Homo sapiens: one gene and its partner. The protein of the gene in region 1 interacts with the protein of each later gene in a pairwise test. Each region holds a gene or a part of one and is shown in the gene's direction. Other genes may lie near its edges.

Evidence for each region.
Region 2: the proteins of RAD54B (region 1) and RIBC2 interact in a two-hybrid assay, tested with the Homo sapiens proteins (2 studies listed by BioGRID and IntAct).

What each region holds. Positions count from the first base shown.
Region 1 is NC_000008.11:94,371,223-94,374,176, reverse strand, and holds the end of RAD54B (DNA repair and recombination protein RAD54B), read left to right. Parts: intron 1-1,789; coding exon 1,790-2,007; 3' UTR 2,008-2,217; downstream 2,218-2,954. UniProt on the Homo sapiens protein: Involved in DNA repair and mitotic recombination. May play an active role in recombination processes in concert with other members of the RAD52 epistasis group.
Region 2 is NC_000022.11:45,423,547-45,430,844, forward strand, and holds part of RIBC2 (RIB43A-like with coiled-coils protein 2), read left to right. Parts: intron 1-2,401; coding exon 2,402-2,629; intron 2,630-7,298. UniProt on the Homo sapiens protein: Microtubule inner protein (MIP) part of the dynein-decorated doublet microtubules (DMTs) in cilia axoneme, which is required for motile cilia beating.

The sequences.
Region 1 (2,954 bases):
CTCCCGAGTAGCTGGGACTACAGGCGCCTGCCACCACGTCTGGCTAATTTTTTGTGTTTTTAGTAGAGACGGGGTTACACTGTGTTAGCCAGGATGGTCTCGATCACCTGACCTCGTGATCTGCCCGCCTTGGCCTCCCGAAGTGCTGGGATTACAGGCGTGAGCCACTGCGCCCGGCCTTGTCATCTCTTTTCTTAAAACCTCAATGATTATGAACACTGACAAGAATTTGATGATATTAAGGAATGACTTGAGGCTTTTCTTTTAGGTGTGATAAAATTTCAAAGAAGTGTTTATCTTTTAGAAATGTAGAATGAAATATTTATAAGTGAAATGATACATGCTATATATTTATTATATTTATTTGAAATTTCCCATAATTAAAAGGTTAAAAAAATAAAACCTCCAATAGCTTCCTATTGCTCTTAGGATAGATACTAAAATCTCTAAATTGATAAGTTAGTCAGGGCAGTCTAATTGCTGTAACAAGAAACTAAAAAAGCACAATGGTCTAACACAATAGAAATATGTTTCTCATTTGTGTAACAGGTCATTGTGGGCATTTAGTGGACAGCCTTTCATAAGGTAATTTCGTGATCCAGGGTTCTTTCACTTGGAGCTCTTCCATCCATTTGGACCTTAGAGTCCTCTGCTGGGATACCCTGCATCTGCCAGCCAGCAGTGAGAGAAGAGATAAAGTAGAAAATTGTTCAGTTTGAAGGATGTTTATAGTTCAGACCTGGAAGTGACATAGCTGCATTCCATAAGGCCAGACTCAGTGGCAATATCTAACCGTAAGGGAGGCTGGAAAAGGTGACTAAGTGCCCTGGAGGAAAGAGAAATGGATTTGGTGAATAACGGCTGGCCTCTGCCATTCATGTTTTGCATAATCCAGCCCTTGAATACTTGCTTCACTGTGCATTACTTAACTTCTTTTGCATTATTCTTTGCTTTTACTCTATAGGCTTTAATTGCATAGGCTCGTATCAATTGCTCGACTATGCCAGTGTCCCTTCCTTTTCATAGCTTTTTAATGTGCTTATCATGGAATGCTTTATCTTTTTTCCCCATCTAGTTCTTTTCTCATCTTTCAGATCTTAATAGAACATTTCCTCAGGGTGCCCTTCACTTACCTTCCGGACCAAGTCAGCCTCTCTTGTCATATGTAAGATAGTTCCCTGTATCTTTCCTTCATACCCTTACCTCTGTTTGTAATTCAGCTCCACAGTCCCTTATCTTCAATTCTGAAATCTAGAAAGCTCAAAAGGTTTTTTTTTCTTCATAAATTTGTGACAAAATTATTTGTGGCAAAACCTTACCTAAATTGATGTGAGTTTATCAATAGTCTTTATTTAACCCATTTTGTAAGACTATTTATGACTTGCTACAGAATGTTAATGAGTTTCATTATGGAATGCTGACCCAGATTGTTCGAATTATATTCTGAATTTGTAAACGTGGCCCCACAGGTTTTAGGAAAGGGATTTTGAATTTGTAATACATTTTTCAGATGATTATTTATTTAATGTATATCTCTCCCACTAGACTGTAAGGTCCTTGAAGTCAGAGACCATGCCTGTGTTTCTTCATCATTTTACCTTTGCTGTTTAAATCAGTACATAGTAAATAACTTATAAATGTTTGTAAAAAGAATGAATTTGTTTTAACTTGAACCATGGTGATCAAATGTAATAAATCACATAAACTAATTATCATAAAACAAAAAAGTATTGTATTTAGCAGGATATTGGCTTGCCTAAGGATTTTCTCATTGTTTTACTTATTACAGGTGATTCGTTGGAAAAATTCATTGTCTCTAGAGATTGTCAGCTTGGTCCACATCACCAGAAATCTAACTCCCTGAAACCTCTTTCTATGTCCCAGCTGAAGCAATGGAAACATTTTTCTGGAGATCATTTAAATCTTACAGATCCTTTTCTTGAAAGAATAACAGAAAATGTGTCATTCATTTTTCAGAATATAACCACTCAAGCTACTGGCACATAGTGAAAGATTACTTCTGACATTCCATTGCTCTTCTTTTGAAAATTAGTATGGTAATTAAATGTACTTTTTGAAAATTAATAGAATTATTTAAATTACAGTATATGTTGCAAAATATATCACTTTTGATACAATAGTCAAAATTGAGTGGTTTAATGTTTTGTAAATATTAAGTGTTTAAATGAAAAATAAAGATGTGCTTATATCATTGTATAATTGTTAATAATTCCTTGATTAATACACTTTCATTAAGTATCTACTGAGAAATTTTTATAAGGAATATAAAAAGGTAAAATACTCTCTGTCTTTGGGAAAACTAATCTGATTAGAAATATTAGACAGATGTTTGAAACAACTGAAAAACTTGGTAAGTTTAAAATGTAGCTCAAAGGAGAAAGAGAATGAGAGGTTAGGATCGCAAATGCTAAAGATGTTGGATGTAATAGTTGCTGCAGGGCAGTTTGAGTGAGAAAAGTCAATGGGTTAGTGCAGGAGTTGAAGGATTTGGGAACACTTGAGAGCACTAGTTCCTAGTTTGGGACCTCAGACTTATGCAGTCTATAAAGCCATGTCTACCAAATATTGTTTATGCACTGAACAAAGGTTCAGCTACCATCATTTAAGGGTTATCTGGAGTAATTTTTGGCATTGAAAAGAGTGTTTTAGCTGTGCGCAGTGGCTCCAGTTTGTAATCCTAGTTACCTAGTAGGTAGAGGCAGGAGGATTGCTTGAGGCCAATAGTTTGAGACTAACCTGAGCAACACAGTGAGACCCTGACTCTAAAAAACAAACTTAGCCAGATATGGTGGCACATGCCTGTAGTTCCAGCTACGTGGGAGGCTGAGGTAGAAGGATTGCTTGAGCCTAGGAGTTTGAGTTTGCAGTGAACTATGATTGGATATGATCCAATATCCATCCTGGGTGACAGAGCAAGACCCCATCTTAAAAAA
Region 2 (7,298 bases), on another chromosome or scaffold:
TAGTAGTACCATGCTGTGAACTAAATATATTGGAGATACAAGCTCAAAACTGTCCTGGTGGAGGCAGGCAGTCAAAAATCCCAGAGAGGCTGGACCAGACACCAGAGAATGTGGGTTTTCAACACGGGGGAGAGGAATGAGGAGAGCCAACTGCGGGGGCTGGGGAGGACCAAAAGGCAAAGCAAGACACCTGAAGTCCGAGCTCACCACCCAGTGAGCTGCAAAGGTCTTAGAGATCATCCATCCCTGCCCTTCATTTTACAGAGGGCGACCAAAGAGGGGAGGCTGTTTGCTCCAGTCCCCACTGCAAGTGAATGGCAGGATGTGGGGCCCTTGACAATTAGTCCACTGTTGGCTGGTGATCTGCTCATTCATTTATGGAAGCGATGGTGATGATGATGATGATAATTCACTCATTCATTCATCAATTCAACCAATGTTTATTGAGCCCTTCCTGCTGGGCATTGGAGTGGCTTTTGCTAAACCCTATTGTCTCATTCATCAATTTATTCATTCATATATTCTAGAAGATGTTTAATGGGCATCCACAGCCTGCCTGGTTTTCTCAGACCCCCGGCTCCTCACGTGGATGCCACGAGGCAGCACCATTGCAAACACTCCTGCACTGGGAAAAGCCGCCCTCTGGCTTCTGCAGCTCTGCTACTAACTACAACTAGGCTTTTTAATTAACCTGGGATGTTAATCCAAAGCCCAAGCAGGCCGGTCCAGTTCAACAGGAAGGACACACGTGAGGGCCTCCAGTTCTTGGGTCGGGGCTCATTTCGTCAGAGAGGCATTGTGGCATCAGGGTGTGGCACGCAGGCTCTGGAGCCCGACCACACGGGGTGCAGACCAGGCTCTGCCCTGCAGCCTTGGGCAGGCCACCCACTGCGTCCATTTGATCATCTGCAGAATGAGGAAGCGACAACACCCTCCTGTGTCGGTCAGAATGTGCTAACCCTTGCTGGGATAAGAAGCAGCAGTCTCAGTGGCTTAAACAGAAAGTTGATGTTCCATGCATGCTCCCTGCCCGCCATGGACAGGCTGTGAGGCCTGTTCCTTGGCATCCTCACTTTGGAGCCCAGGTCCTGGGATGGAGCGACCGCCAGCCAGAGGATCCCTGCAGGAGGAGGGAAGGAATGTGGCTAGTCCCCGCAGGCTTCCTCCCAGGAGCAGTACTGCCACCTCTGCTCACATTTCTTTTTTCTTTTTTTTTTTTTTTTTTGAGGTGGAGTCTTGTTCTCTTGCCCAGCCTGGAGTGTGTAGTGGCGCGATCTTGGCTCACTACAAGCTCTGCCTCCCGGGTTCACACCATTCTCCTGCCTCAGCCTCCCAAGTAGCTGGGATTACAGGCCTCTACCACCACGCCCAGCTAATTTTTCTATTTTTAGTAAAGATGGGGTTTCACCATGTTGGCCAGGCTGGTCTTGAACTCCTGACCTTGTGATTTGCCCACTTTGGCCTCCCAAAGTAAGAACAGTGTTGAATCACTTGAACCTGGGAGGCAGAGGTTGCAGTGAGCCGAGATTGTGCCACTGCACTCCAGCCTGGGTGACAGAGCGAGACTCCGTCTCAAAAAAACAAACAAACAAACAAACAAAAAAAAACGGGTGTAGGGGCTTGGAAGGATGAGCTGACTTCCTTAGGGAGTACTCAGTGGCAAGTCCGGTATTGAAGTTGGGCCTGTCTAACTACAAAGCTTGTACTGTGTGACTCAATCAAGCTGGCCTCTGGTGAGCACATGTGGGAGGCCGGCTCCTTGCAAACTGCCCTGTCCATGTGTTACTGAGGACAACTGTAAACCCAAGTACATGTCTCCTAAGCCATCTCCTGACTTTACAGAGAAATGACTGCAGCCCAGAGAGGGGAGGTGACTTGGTATAGGCCACATAGCCAGGGAACCCCCAGGGAATCAAACAGAAATGAGACCTGGAATTACTTTGTACTGGGGGCTGCAGCTCAGGACCACTGAAGTGACAGTGCATTTTCTACCACTGTTGTCAATCACTCTGTTGAGCGTTCTTTGCAGCCCACAGATGTCCAAGGGTTGCCAGGGGCATAGAGCCCTGCCTTGGGTGGGACCAGGCCCACGCGGGGTGTCGGCCTAATCCAAGGAGGGAGTTCCCTGCCTTGGTAAGTTGGTGCAAGACCCGGAGCTCTTATGCATACACCCAACAGGTGGTGATCCCCCGAGTCCAGCCCACCCGCCCAGCAGTGCGCAGGCAGCCAGGGGTTCAAGGACCCACCCACATCCGTGCCTGACAAGTCTCCCCTCCACCCGACTCCTGCTGCCCTTAGCATATCCTCCCCTCGAGGGCCCCCAGTGAGATTTGCTGGCCTGGGTGTCAGAATGCCCCTGGGGTCACTCGGACCATCTTCTTTAATGTCTTCACCTGCTTAGGCCATCGAGTCAGTGGAAAGGAAAAAGCAAGAGAAAAAGCAAGAACAAGAGGACAACTTGGCCGAGATCACCAACCTCCTGCGTGGGGACCTGCTCTCCGAGAACCCGCAGCAGGCAGCCAGCTCCTTCGGGCCCCACCGCGTGGTCCCTGACCGCTGGAAGGGCATGACCCAGGAGCAGCTGGAGCAGATCCGCCTAGTCCAGAAGCAGCAAATCCAGGAGAAGCTGGTGACTGCCCCGCCCCTTTTTCCAGAGCCCATAGAGCCAGGCTCTTTGCTCCCACTGCCTTCCAGGCACAAATGTAGTTGTAGCAGGCCTTGTGCTCTGCCCTAGCACCTGCCCTCAAGGAGTTTCCCTTCTAGTCGGTGGGAGACAAGAGCCAGATAGTGTCACACCCGTATGATGTGGCATTAGGAGTAGGAGTGCCAAGATAGAGGACAGTAGAATGGGAAGACATTGAAGCAAAGACCCAAAAGAGGGTAGGGAGGGAGCCATGTGTCTACCTGGGAAAAGGGCGACCGGGCAGGGTGAGCTGCAAGGGCAAAGGCCTTGAGGCAGGACCCTGCCAGACCTGCTCAGAGAAGGGCGTGGAGCCTGGTGACTAGAGTGGAGTGAGGAGAGGGGCAGGTACGGAGGCCTCAGAGGCAGACGGTCGAGGTCCTGGCAGTCCACTGGGGAGGACTTTGGCTTCTTCTGTGACGGAGACGGGGAACTCTGCAGGGTTTTGGACAGAGAAGTGACAGGATCTGACTTAGGTTGAACAGGATCCCCAGCGTGATCCCCCTGGATTGAGGGCAGACACTAGGGGCTGAGGGGGAAGGAAGGAGATCTCCAGGAAGGCCTTTGCAGTGTTCACAGCGAGAGGTGATGCTGGCTGGGACCACGGGGCAGGCAGTGGGGGTGCTGAGCAATGGTCAGATTCTGGATCTGTTTTGAAGGTAGAGTCGACAGGATTGGATGCATGATTGGGTGGGGACGTGTGAAAGAGAGGAGTTAAAGGCGACTCTAGGTCCTGTGGCCTGAGCAACTAGAGGGATGGAATTGGCATTTCCAGAGATGGGGAAGGTGGTGGGAGGAGCAGGTTGGTGGGTGGGGAGGGGTGGAAATCAGAGTTACAATTTTGGATACGTCAAGTGTGCAAAGTCCATTAGATATCTGTATCTATTAGGATTACATTTGCCTGAATGTGGCAGAAAACCACACATAACAGCATCTTAAACAAAATAGAACTTTCTCTCTTGCAAGTAGACTAAATCCTCAGGAAAACAGTCCAGGGCTGGTATGGCAGCTCTGTGGTCATTGACTGATGTCCTGCTATCCTTGGCTCCTGGCTCTCACTTCTTAGTGCAAGATGGCTGCTTGAGCACCAGCCATCACATGCATAGTCCAGCTACCAGGAAGGAGGAATGGAGAACACTCTAAGGAGATTTCCACTTACATTTCACTGGACAACACTTAGTCACAAGGTTGCCCCTAACTCTAAAGAAGTCAAGGAAATGCGTTTATTCCAGACAGTGAAGTGCTGGTGATTGTTTTACTAAAGAAGAACGAAAAATGGTTACTGGGAGACAAGTAGTATTTTCTGCCACAATCTCCAATTAAAGCCCAGGAGGCAGCTGGATATGTAACATAGGGCTCAGAACAAGGTCTGGGCCAGAGGCATAAATGTGAGTCGTCACCTACAGAGAGAATGTATGCATGTATTTTGAGACAGTCTCACTCTATCACCCTGGCTGGAGTGCAGTCATGCAGTCTCGGCCCACTGCAACCTCTGCCTCCTGAGTTCAAGCGATTCTCCTGCCTCAGCCTCCCCAGTAGTTGGGATTACAGGCATGCACCACCACACCCAGCTGCTTTTTGTATTTTTTGTAGAGGTAGGGTATCGTCATGTTGGCCAGGCTGGTCTCAAACTCCTGGTCTCAAGTGATCCACCCACCTCAGCCTCCCATAGTGCCGGGATTACAGGCGTGAGCCACCATGCCCGGCCCTACAGAGAGTATTTAAAGCTGAGGACTGAGTCCTGCTCCCACCTCCCCAGCACCCCCCTTCTCACCACCACTGTTGATAAAGAGCAAAGGCATCTGAGAAGGGGCCGCCAGGGAGGTGGACAGATGCAAGCCGTGGTTTCCTGGAGGCCAAGTGAGGAAAGGTGTTTGGGAGGGAAGGAGAGGGGAACCCCTGGGTCAAACGCTGCTGCCATGCTCAGGCTAAACGCTGGATCCAGCACCATGGCAGTCACCAGGGACCCTGTCAGGAAGGAGCATGTTTGGCAGAGGAGTGGGGCTGCCAGCCTAATGGGCTCAAGAGAGAACAGGCAGGAAACGAATGGAGATGGCACATGCAGACAGCACTTACAAGGCGTTTGCTGTAAAGGGTGCAGAGAAATGGAGTAGGAGCTGGTGGGGGCCATGAGGTGAAGGGAAAGTTTTTGTTTGTCTTGATTGTAGAAATAACAGCATGCTTGTCATTCAGCCGGAGTGATGCAGTAGAGGGGGAAATTGATGCCAGAGGAGAGACTTGCTGGAGCCGTGTCCCTGGGCTGCAGGAGAGCGAGGGACATGGAGTGCTAGTTGAGGGCTTGGTGTGGCCTCTGGGAGCTCAGAGCCATCACTGGAGTCACGGGAAGGGGCATCAGGGCGGGAGCTTGCGGGTGAACAGAATTGAGACCTGAGTTGATCTGTACTGGGGGCTGTGGCTCAGGACCACTGAAGTGACCGTCATTTTCTACCTTTTAGAAGTAGAACTGAGCAGGGCCGGGGGGAGTTAGTGCTAAGTGGTCATCTAGAAGAGCTGGAGAGGGAACAGCCTGGAGGAAGGGGACAGGATGGTCAGACAGTGCCCAGGGCCCACTAGGGGGTCATAGTCAGATGACTGGGTCACCCCATAGGTCTGGGTCACCCCATAGTCTGGGTCACCCCAGAGAGCACTGTCAGGGTGTCCCCCACCATGCTTAGCCAGATTCATTGTGGTCACCGCCTGCCTGATCAAGTGAAGGACTCAGGGGGCCGAGGGTATTGGCCTGGGAGCATCTGCCATGAGACGAACCAGGGGGCCAGAGAGAGATTGGAAAAGTGGCGGCCAGCAGACTGGAGGTCACACTTTGCGGGGGGCATAATCATTGGAATCAGGGACTTGGAGAGAGAGTGGAAGAGACAGGTTAGAGCAGTGAGACTGTTATTGGTAATGACAACGGAAGGGTGGAGGGTCCCAAAGGGAGGGTCTCCGGACCCACAGCATCGGCCGGGTGGGGCCTGCAGTCTGTGGTTTCGAAAGCCCCCAGGGGATTCTGATGCCTACTCAAGTTTGAGAACCACTGGTAGGGTGTGCCCAGTGGGTGAGAAGGTGAAGCCGGGACTAGATCTTTGGAGAGGAGGCAGGAGAGCTGAGCAGCTGGGGACAAGAGAGGGCTGTCTCTGTGTGTGCTGAAACCACTGAGAATCCTGGCAGGAGAGATCTGGAGAGGGTCTCAAACCTGCAAAGAGTGGGTGGAAGAGGCCAGGCTGGGGTGGCAGGTGCCATAGTTGGTGTAAGCTTCTGATCTGGTGGGTCTGGGGAGGAGGAGGGACAGTGGCGGTGGCGTGGACCAGGGCATGAGGAGTGGGTGGGGCAGCTCGTCCACCTGCTTCCCTGCAGGCCAGAGGTGCACATGTGTGGGAGGCTGCAGTGGGGCCGGGACCTGGGCAGGCAGGGGGCGTGAAGTTCAGGAAGTAGTCCAAGGTGGAAAGGGCGCCGGGGCTGGAATGGGGGTCCAGGGCCCTGCTCTGTGCTTCAGGACTGCCGCTCTGCCTGGACCATCTGGCACAGGAGATCGGCCGGCCATCCTGAAAGCAGTATTGCTGTCTAGTTTTCATTTTTTGTAGAAAATTAAGAAGACAGAAAAGCACAAAGGGGGAAAAACACACATGAAACCTCCCCACTCAGAACTACTGCCCGCTTCCTTTCTGGGTCCTTGCCTCCATCCCCTTTTCTATGCTTGGAGGTAACTGGGAAAGTTGAGATCTCACCTCAAACAGCTGGGCTGTCTGCTTTGCTCTTAGCCCGGGTGAGTGTGTCCCATGCCATTCCCTGTTTGCCACCAAGCAGCTTGTGTGATGACCCTGGGCTCCTGAGAGCAGCCTGGCTTTACAGCGGGGGACACTGAGGTTCATGAGAGCAGGGTGACTTGCCTCGTGGGTGACAAAGCCCGCCAGCCTGCCTTCAGTCCCAGGATGGGGCCGCCCAGACCCCCGTGCCACTCACCGGACACATCCTTGCTTATTTGGCGGGAGGAGGCTCTGCCCTAAAAATGGCAAACGTGGGCAAAGGGGACTCGTCTTCAGCCCTAACAAAGCTGACAACACACGGGGAAGTACCCCTTCCTCCACACAAATCCAGCTTCCTCTTCCAGGGCTCCAGAGTTTTCACAGTGAGGAGGGCAGTGAGGAATGAGCTGAAACATAGCAACTCAGGGGTTGGGGTGCCCCTCTAGGACCATAACCTTCCTGTCACCGGGTGAGGCTGTGGTGTCTGCATGTTCTGGAAGCTGCCCAGGTGATCTGCGTTCAGCTGTGGGGCAGCCGGCCATGGCTCATGGAGGTGGCATCTGACAGCTGACTGAGCCAGGGAGCCCCCTGAGGACCTGAGAAGGAAGACTCTGGGCCCAGCCTGCACCTGGGAGCCCTGCACCCCGGAGCTGGGAGTGGAGGCTGCTGTAGGAATTGAGTCCCTGCTGTGCCTTTAGGAGAAGGAGGACGGCCAGCACCTCCTGACGGGGGAGGGCAGCTGGGCCACATGGAATGAGGGCAGGCTGGGGGTCTCCTCTGGCTTCCTGCATGACATCGGTCACCTACCTGCTCGTCCTCTGAGCCTCAGTTTCCCCATCTGTAGAATGAGAGGCCAGGCCTCCTAGATAATCCCC